3 separate regions of the Homo sapiens genome follow, and all the other regions are reported to be linked to region 1. Evidence: microRNA targets listed by miRTarBase, many of them from high-throughput screens and not tested one by one. Region 1 holds a microRNA gene; each other region holds the end of a gene's coding sequence.

Evidence for each region. The annotated mature microRNA hsa-miR-106a-3p reads CUGCAAUGUAAGCACUUCUUAC and lies in region 1 at 1,645-1,666, opposite strand. An mRNA with a match to its seed (bases 2 to 7 or 8) in the 3' UTR can be bound and repressed. Matches are read on the target gene's strand: a 7mer-m8 pairs with bases 2 to 8, a 7mer-A1 pairs with bases 2 to 7 and ends in A, and an 8mer does both.
Region 2: the mRNA of DYM is a reported target of hsa-miR-106a-3p. Seed matches in the 3' UTR shown: 7mer-A1 at 2,371-2,377.
Region 3: miRTarBase lists LYSET as a target of hsa-miR-106a-3p. The part of its 3' UTR that is shown has no 7-base or 8-base seed match.

What each region holds. Positions count from the first base shown.
Region 1 is chrX:134,168,564-134,171,712 of GRCh38, forward strand. It overlaps MIR106A (microRNA 106a), which reads right to left and starts at 1,715; the gene lies at 1,635-1,715. It overlaps MIR106AHG (miR-106a-363 cluster host gene), which reads right to left. Exons shown (of 2, transcript XR_007068340.1): 1 at 3,106-3,149; 2 at 587-1,789. MIR363 (microRNA 363) reads right to left here and starts at 889; the gene lies at 815-889. It overlaps MIR92A2 (microRNA 92a-2), which reads right to left and starts at 1,049; the gene lies at 975-1,049. It also overlaps MIR19B2, MIR20B and MIR18B.
Region 2 is chr18:49,041,482-49,044,630 of GRCh38, forward strand. DYM (dymeclin) reads right to left here. Exons shown (of 18, transcript NM_001353214.3): 18 at 1-2,723. The coding sequence ends at 2,574. All of the region lies in intron 4 of DYM-AS1 (DYM antisense RNA 1), which reads left to right. Among named protein-coding and RNA genes, the nearest start is that of MIR4744, 6.7 kb to the right of the region's middle. RefSeq lists an enhancer at 2,910-3,149.
Region 3 is chr14:93,186,205-93,189,353 of GRCh38, reverse strand. It overlaps LYSET (lysosomal enzyme trafficking factor), which reads right to left. Exons shown (of 2, transcript NM_001098621.4): 2 at 891-3,094. The coding sequence ends at 2,683. Among named protein-coding and RNA genes, the nearest start is that of LYSET, 2.5 kb to the right of the region's middle.

The sequences.
Region 1 (3,149 bases):
GGGGTTGGCTGGCTGTGTCTTAGTAAGTGCTAAAGTTTTAAGAACCACTAGAGGATCCAAATAACTTTTGGTGTTCAGTCTCAAACCACTAATTAGCTGCGCATGAGAAATTTCTGCTTTAGGTTAGTCACCCTATGGAGCCCCCGAACCCTAAATATTAACAGTAGGCCCACATCCAGGTTTCCATCTGCTAGACTCCAAAGCAAGGCAGCAGCCATCCCTCTCAGTAGCCCTGCCACCAAATCCTCTTCTCCGAGAACCCCAAAACAGAGTTTGATTGACAAGTTCATTCTTCTCTCCTGTCAGACCTCAAAATGTGCCCAGTTCCTTAAAGGTATGTGTCCCATTGGTTTACAACTCTTCATTCCCTTCCTAAGAATGAGCACGTGTACTAAAACAAAATTAGTACATGTCATCCAAATATTGTCAGGGTAATAAAATTCCTAAAATTAGGCATCTTGGTGCTTTATGTAGATGCAAACTTGAAAAGCAGCTATGTCCAAGTTTTCCTTTAGGATCCTCCCAAGAGATATTTTACAAACTCCTCTAGCATTGCTAATTATTTTTTTTAAAAAAAAAAGAGTCATTTTTTCAGATCTATAAATTTCATTTATTTTGAGGTTCATTCACATTCAGTAACAATCTGATCATTCACCAAAGTTCCAAAACACATACTTTATAAATTAGCTATCATAGTTTTTAGAAATCCAAATATATTTCAAATTATTTTTTAATAGCAGCAACTAGAGAAAGGATTTTTTACCATCTAGCTTACTGTAGCGCTGATCAGGAATGTCGCCAACAAAGGTCCTGCGGTTTACAGATGGATACCGTGCAATTTTTCTCCTATGATACTCATCAAAATTGCATCGTGATCCACCCGACAACAGCAAAACAGATCATTTTACAATGACTAAATATCAGAACTTACGGCTTTTAAAAGTTAAAATAAGAAGACGATAAAAATCCTCCTTTCTTCCACAGGCCGGGACAAGTGCAATACTTTATATAGAACACAAGTAATGCAACAAATCCCCACCCAGGGATGAATGGGCATGAGTGCTGGAGATACGCATGAAGGTGTGTTCACACAGACGTAGGAAGCACACATTATCACAATCAGTTTTGCATGGATTTGCACAGCCACATATACATATATACGCTGAAATGCAAACCTGCAAAACTAATTGTAAGTAGCAATGTCTTTGAATATTCTCTCCATCAACAAGAGATTTGTTATCCAAGAGTACTGGAAGTGCCCATACTACAGTAGAGTCATGCCAAAACTACCTGCACTATGAGCACTTTGGTACTACTAGGACCCAATCTTATCCTCTGTACACAACTGTACACTGCACAGTCCCCACCATCTGTTCCCAACAAACAATAAAAAGGCAAAAAACAAACCACTGAAATGTGTCCTATTCAAATTACTACTCAAGGCATACTTTTAAAATGCTGTATATTAGGCAGCCTGTGCCAGAAGGGGCATTTAGGGCAGTAGATTCTAAGCTGCTTCACTAACTGCACTAGATGCACCTTAACACAAGAGACACATTATAAGAAGCAGCTCAAAAGCATCAACTACTTAATTATGCACAAACTACAGTTCTCAGTAGCCATTGACTAAATCACCATGGTAATGTAAGAAGTGCTTACATTGCAGTAGATCTCAAAAAGCTACCTGCACTGTAAGCACTTTTACATGGCCAAGGCCTATTCCTGTAGCAAAATTTTAAGTCTTCCAGGAGCTCTTCTTTTCCGTCCTCACAGATCCATGCAGACTCACCTGGTTAAAACAACAAAACAAACACACACATATTAGAAACTAAACAAGTAAACTACTAGTTAATATTCCTGAAACAGGCTTTCCTTTGGCTTACAGAGTCTAAGCTAGGTTTTGTGGTTTCAACCAAATCCTGAGAAATATTAATAATCTCAATTATTTACACAGAATTGAACACGAATAACACTGGCAACTGCAAAAAGTCCAATTCTTATGTATAAGCAGATTTTGGACTCCCCCTCTCCATCTAAGAAAATTTGATATCTGCATCTCAGTAATTTGCAGGCACATTCTATCCACCCTGATTTTATAAGAGGAGGACCTAGAGAAAGGAGCATGTAAAACCCAGGATGAGTATTCGAGTCTTCAGATCATTCAGAGCTTTTGGGCTCCATACGGAAAGTGACTGTTAGATTAAATGAATATTCCCAGCCCCCACCCCATTAATAGAAAATGAGAGAAATTTTAGAGCTGGTTTAAGAAACACAGCCTTACAGTCTTCACATAATGCACAGATGGCTGAGAGATGTCACATTTTGATCTATTTCAAAGGGCTCTACTTCTGTTTAAACATTTATGGACCCATTTTCTCCATTAAACCAAAGTAGGCAGATTAGCTCTTCTTCCCTTCATGTCATTATCTTCCATAAGAAAACCTTCTCCCATTTCCAAGTGCTTATTTTACCTAAGAACATACAGCAAGGAAGTGAGCCTCTATGTGAAAAAGGCTCACAGGGTCCCCTATCTCTTCCATGATGGGGTAACTTTTGTTTAAAAGAAAAACAAAAACGTTTGGGACAGAATCTGTAATACGTTAAACGAGTGAGGGAATTTTAAATGTTGAACTTTCGTCACGATATCTTATGCCACTAAATGAGTCTTTAGAAGTCTTTACAAACTAAACTGATTTATAAAACTTATACATCAATCTGGAATCAATTTTCTATTAGGGAAGAATGGATTTAGTATAGAAATGAGAAAAATAACATTTTTCCCCTTAAATTGGGTTTCTACACCTGTGAAGATTTCTTTTCCATTAAAAAAAAAATACTCCAAACTTGACTCAAAATGCATAGTATTTGCCAACCCAACCTGGCCAAACTGAGCCCCACAGCCATCAGACAGGGCGCCCTTCTAGTTACTACCTTTTGCTAATTAGCGGTTCATCTGGCATCCCTCGCGCACGCTGGGCAGTCACTCTCCAATCCCCTTAAATTGCAAATAATAATAATAATAATAAGGAAAAGAAAGAAAGAAGTCCTTCCCTGTACGCCTTTGTGGCTCCCTTTTGCCTCTTCCCGCGTCTCTCACACCCTTACCTAATGCTCCCGTTGAAGTCCGCGAGCAGCCCGCGCGTCCAGGG
Region 2 (3,149 bases), not on the chromosome of region 1:
TATCATTCAGATTTATTGCCATATAATAAATCTTTCACAAAAATCAGGAAGAAGCCTCTGGTGACTTTGCAGAGCTGAGGCAGTGATGCACGTGGTGGGGCCTCCCTCCTGAGCGGGAACCAGGACTGGGAGCATCACTTGCAGGCCTCCATGGAGGCTGCTGCCCCAGCTGAGCTGTTAGCTAGTGAGTGCTTCTACTGTGTGATGAATGAGAAAAGGGAAAGAGGGGAGGGCAATCAGGGTTCTGGGGGCACCTCAGTGAGCCCAGAGGCCTGGAGGAGAGGCTGTATGATTCCCCAGTCAGGCCTTCCTTGGGAGTGTGCCCTCTGTCAAGATGACTGGGTTTTTGAAGGGCCTCATTTCCTCACACAACAAGCACTGACAGTCCTGCAGCCCAGGGACTGTCCTGTGGCACTGCCCAGCCCTCAGACTCAGAGGACAGTTCTGTGGTCCTGCCAGAAGCTCAGCTGTTCCACATGACCCTTAAACATTTAAACAATTTTTTGGTTTAAAGGAAAAGGAAGCCAATCAAAATGCTTTGGAAACAAATTAAAGTTGCAAATTATTTCCCCACATAGTAAATACATATCCTTGCTACCTGAAATGATAATCATCACTCCCCCTGCTGGCTGAGAGCGCTTCTCCTCCTTCAGACTGGCTCTGCCACAAAGCTAAGTATTAGTAGAAGTTGTTGCCAAGCCTCACCTCTAGCCTGTACATGGGCTCTGAGGTGAACACAGGAGTCAGAGTCCCCACTCCAGCAGTGACTGGAGGAGGCCTGACAGAACAAGCCCCTTGGGGACAGGAGGCAAGCTGCACTCACCTCTGGGACCCCACCCGGGATGGGCGCTCCACGAGTCCCTTGGCCTTAGGGAACCTCTGTTTCATTCCATCCAGACGAGGATAGGGAAGCTTCCTGCCCTACCTCGACAGCCTCTAAGAGCACAGCTTGGCCAGGCCTTCCCGTGTGGAGCCCACACAGTGGTGCACTGAGAGGCTGCCAGTGTTTTGACCTTTTACAGAGCTTGGGGTGACTGAGAATGGTTCCTCCGAGGCCCTCGGAAGATTTGATGGACTCAAATAACACGGGCCTGCAGCCCTGGGACACAGGACAGGAGAAGCCAGCCCTGACACAGATGAGCTGGCAGTGGATTCGAACAGTGTGCTCAGTCTCGTCTGGGCTTTTGTGCTTTCTATGTTGAAGACCAAATACTTTTTCTTTGAGAATGAAACTAGGCTCCTTATCTAGACTGTGAAGGGGCCCGTGAGGACACAGAGTGTGACTGGAAAGGAAGGTCCCAACTGGCCCTCAATGTGGCCCCAGTGGCTGTTTCCCTGCAAGAAGCTCCTTCCTCCAGCTCAGGCACCAACACACGGATCACACCGGCCCAGAAACAAAGAGCAAAACATGCTTTTCATCCCACGTGGAATACAGTATGAACAAATTACTCTCCTTTTTCTATTAGTGTGGGTGAAGGAAAAAGACTGTTTTCAAATGAAGCTTTTCTTTTTCCCAATGATTAATACAGAGTAGATTAACTTAATTTGTGCTAGACTCCAATTTAATTCCAGCAACAGTTCACAGGCCATATTCACAGAAAAGTTAATCTGGGCTTCATGAGAAGTAGCCATTTTCTTTTTCTTTTCTTTCTTTTTTTTTTTTTGCGAGACAGGGTCTCACTTTGTGGCTCAGGCTGGAGTGTACTGGCACGTTCTTAGCTCACTGCAGCCTTGAACTCCTGGGCTCAGGCAATCCTCCTACCTTAGCCTCCTGAGTAGCTAGGACTACAGGAATGTGCCATCATGCCTGGCTAATTTTTAAGTTTTTTGTAGAGATGGGATCTCACTATGTTGCCCAAGCTGGTTTCAGATTCCTGTGCTCAAGGGATTCTGCTAACTTGGCTCCCCAAAGTGCTGGGATTACAAATGTGAGCCACTGTATCTGGCCCATATTCTTTTTTAAGAAAAGATGCAGAGGTGTTAAATATTAATATCAAATTGTCCAGGCATGGTGTTTATGAAATTGTGTGCCCTCTGACAGGCAACCAAACACACACGACTTCATTTCTTTATTAATTCCTGCCTCATCATCTTTTCTCATTGATGCTCCTTAATGTCAAAGGAATCTCTCTCTCTCACACACACATAAGACCAAAACAAATATCTTGAACATGCAAAAAAATAGTCTACGCTTTTGAATAGTGTGCACTGTTGAATAGTGTGCACTGTTGGATAGTGTGCACTGTTGAAGTGTGATGTGCCTAAGGCAACAGGATCTTGGGAAAGCTCTAGATTTTTGGCTTCGAAATAAAACTGCATGTTGAATAGCAGGTTTTTACATTTATTATTGTTGTGTATTTCCTCCCCTTTTTGCAATACTATCTACGCTGAGTTATCTATTGCCAACTAGCACCAATTCTCCAAATCAAAGTGTGTGAGGAAAACACACTCGTGCAATCCTCTTTAACAGAAGATACACCAAGTAACCTGTCTGTCTACTTCTGTTACCCAGAAATAAAAGAACTTGAAGGGCTGCTTGGCTGGAGGGGTCCGGGTGGGAGAGCATCCTGCCCTCAGTCGGAATCCATGGTGAACAGCTGGATGTCCTGTGGATTCCAGTACAGGCCGACTGCTGAGTTGTAGACAAGAGACCAGACATAGGGGATAAAAAACTCCTCGGGCTGCTCCTCTTCCACATATTTGAATTTCAATTCTGGAAATTTCTGCAATGAAAATAAGATGATTTTATAATCCCACAGTTCCATGCACAAGCAAAAGTGGTGAGAGTTTGCAGGTGGTGCTGTGGTGTGCGGGGAGCCCACCCACCCCTGCCAACTGGTCACAGGGCATGAAAGCTCTGGGGCTTTAAAATATTTCAGCTATCAAATGGCTCCTGAGAAAATGTGAATTACCGATGGAGAGAGCAAGTAACACAATGGGTCCTGGTTGGCTAATGTCAGTTTGGCTGATAGTTCCCTGCTAGGGACCCCAACAGTGGTTAAGGTATGATGAGAAATATCCTAGCTGAGACATGGACCCTGCCTGGGAGGCAGACAAGGCTCAGGCTGATATTCCCCAGAGTGCAATGCTAGGGACTGGCTTTTGAGAGGCACTGTCCTCAGGGTTCCACCATTCTGGAGGTGAGGACC
Region 3 (3,149 bases), not on the chromosome of region 1:
TTCACATACTGGCTATGTGACTATGGACAAGTTATTCCTACGTGTTTCAGGTTTCTTCTGTAAAATGACACTAGTAGCAGTATAATACCTGCCTCCCAGGACTGTTGTGAAGAATAAATGTAAATCACTCATAAACAATGTCTGTAACATGCATACTGAATACTTAAAAGATGCAAGTGATTTGGTCATCTGACCCTCACAAAAACAAGTATTTCAAACTGCTGCTTACTTTGAGGATTCCACGTGTTATATCAAAAGATATATCATTTCAGTAACTAGACCTTTGGAGGCAGTGAGATAAATGAGACTAATTGATCTGAAGGATCTGATCTGCTACTTTTACATCACAAAGGTACCTGCTTTATCTTTTAAGTAACAGCTTGCTATGGAATACTCAGCCTTCCTTTCGGGTTCAGTCAGATGTAGTGGAAAGATGAGGTTGCTAGGAAACTTTCAGATTTCTAGTAGACAAATAGAGAAAAACTTGTCAATACTATTGCCATTTCCATTCTTTGGCATGACTGGGCAAAGAGTACCCAGTGCTAAAACATTTGTCATTTGTGAGAAGCGCTATGCCTCTGTGGTTAGTAACGATGGCGTTAGAATGCCTGGTTATAACCCTGGCTCTGCTACTCGCTGTGACCTTTGGCAAGTTACTTGACTTCTCTGCCTCAGTTTCCTTATCTGTGAAATCTGGATAATAATACCCATCTTATAGGGTTGTTGGGAGGATTACATTAGTTAATTTCCATAAAGCTCTTAGAATAGGGCCCAACAGAATAAGCATCAAAAAGTGTTGATTATTAAAAGCATAAAATGTTTTCCAGTATTAATGACATAACTGTATAAAAATATATCTTGATCTCATGCAGAAAAGAAATGCTACTGTGTCCATGTTTTAGTTATTTGTATTAGTACCAGATGTGAGGTAGTACAAATGCAAAGGAGAAGGTACAGGAACACATCTTCATGTAATTAACCTACTGCCTGATGACCTGACCTTGGGCCAGAAAAGAAAATCAGAAAGATTATGACTTGATAGCATCTTTTAGAGGGGTCTCATGCATCTGATAAGGACTGGACTAAATTACCTGCTATAGGCTGGCCATGGTGGCTCATGCCTGTTATCCTAGTACTTTGGGAGGCTGAGGTGTATCACTTGAGGTCAGGAGTTCGGGACCAGCCTGGACAACATGGTGAAACCCCGTCTCTACTAAAAATACAAAAATTAGCCAGGCATGGTGGTGGGTGCCTGTAATCCCAGCTACTCGGGAGTCTGAGGCAGGAGAATAGCATGAACCTGGGAGGTGGAGGTTGCAGTGAGCTGAGATCGCACTTCTGCACACCAGTCTGGGCTACAGAGCAAGACTCCATCTCAAAATAAATAACATAAATAAATACAGCTAGGCATGGTGGCTCATGCCTGTAATCCCAGGCCTTTGGGAGGCTGACGCAAGTGGATTACCTTAGTTAGGTGAGGAGTTTGAGACCAGCCTGGCCAACATGCTGCAACCCTGTCTCTACTAAAATAACAAAAATCAGCCAGGCATGGTGGTGGTCACCTGTAATCCCAGCTACTCAGGAGGCTGAGGCAAGAGAATCGCTTAAACCCGAGAGGTGGAGGTTGCAGTGAGCCGAAGGTTCCAGTGAGCCAAGACTGCACCACTGCACTCCATCCTGGGTGACAAAGCAAGGCTCCGTCTCAAAAATAATAATAATAATTTAAATAAATAATAAATAACCTGCTAGATTTTCATTGAACACATTGTTTCCATCTTCTATTTGTAAGTTATTTCTAGCCTTTCAACATTTAACACTTAGTTTCTTCCCAGATAGTTTTCTAAATCAGTAGCATTGGAGCGTACGTTCTCAGGGCCTTCTGAGACTGTGTCACAAGTCATGGAAAAAAAAAATTTTTTTAATTAAAAATAGCTGGGCATGGTAGCTCACACCTGTAATCCTAGCACTTAGGGAGCCAGAGAGAGGAGGAAAGCTTGAGCCCAGGAGTTCGAGACCTGCCTGGGCAACATAGCGAGACCCCATTCTCCACAAAAAAGAAAAATATAAAAAATAAAACCATTAAAAGCATTAATAATAATTTAGCCATTACCAAGAGGAAGAACAAATTCTGCTTATCAAGACAGCCATTTCCTCAATAATTTTTTAGCAATGCCTCATAAGCTGACAGCAAGTCTAGACAGCTGGCTTAGCTGCAATAGAATGAATCGGTGTTTTAAGTGTGAAGAATTTTAAAGCAAGCCAAGTAATTGTATAAAATTTAAATTTTATGATCATGTCTGGACCTTTTTACACTTAACACAATGGAAATGTTCATATTCATTTTTTTCCCCAAAGGAAAAATTTCTGAATCATCACTATGTTGCACAGTAGAATAGAAATATGAATTCAGGTACTTAGTCAAGTTTCTAAAGAATGCAAATAACAGACATGATTTAACTTCCAAAATCTGAAGTCATCAACATGATTTTGTAGTACTCTATCTCAGGTTTTACCTAAAAATTCGTTATTATTCAGATAAAGATAGCTCCCTAATCACATGTTTTTAAAAAGCCTCTGCCCCACGACAACTTCCTGAGATCTGTGAAGAAACTGCAGTCTTGTGATCAGACTCCATATAGGACTGGCAGTTTTGTAATCGTAGGGAAAAAACGGTGACTGATTTTACGTGTCAATCAGTTGTAGTCTGCTGATCTGATTAGAAGCCTTGACAAATGCCTGGTGGCGATTGCAAATAACTGCCAAGCATATAGGGATGATACAGTAGCCCACTGTTTTGGGATCAGCTCTTGTACAAGAGTATAGGAACAAAAACATCTGTAAGTAAGGTACCAGAAAAATAACTGTCCACACCCAAAAAGGCAAGGAGAGTAATTGAGCTTTCAAGGAGTGTGTCCATGTGGTTCCTTCAAGGGGCTCCTCAGGGTGCTGTTGAATGTGTTCCAAGGCCAGCCTGTTGTAAGTCTCACTGATTTCAAAAACATAGTAAAATGCTGCTGCACTGGCTAACAGATACAATCCCACTCCAATCCATCCCATCCGCTGACGGAAGTTCATCATTCTCCATGCTCTGTGCCTTCAAATTAAAAAAGAAAATACAATTAGGGTCTAGTAATGCTGTCACGGCAACT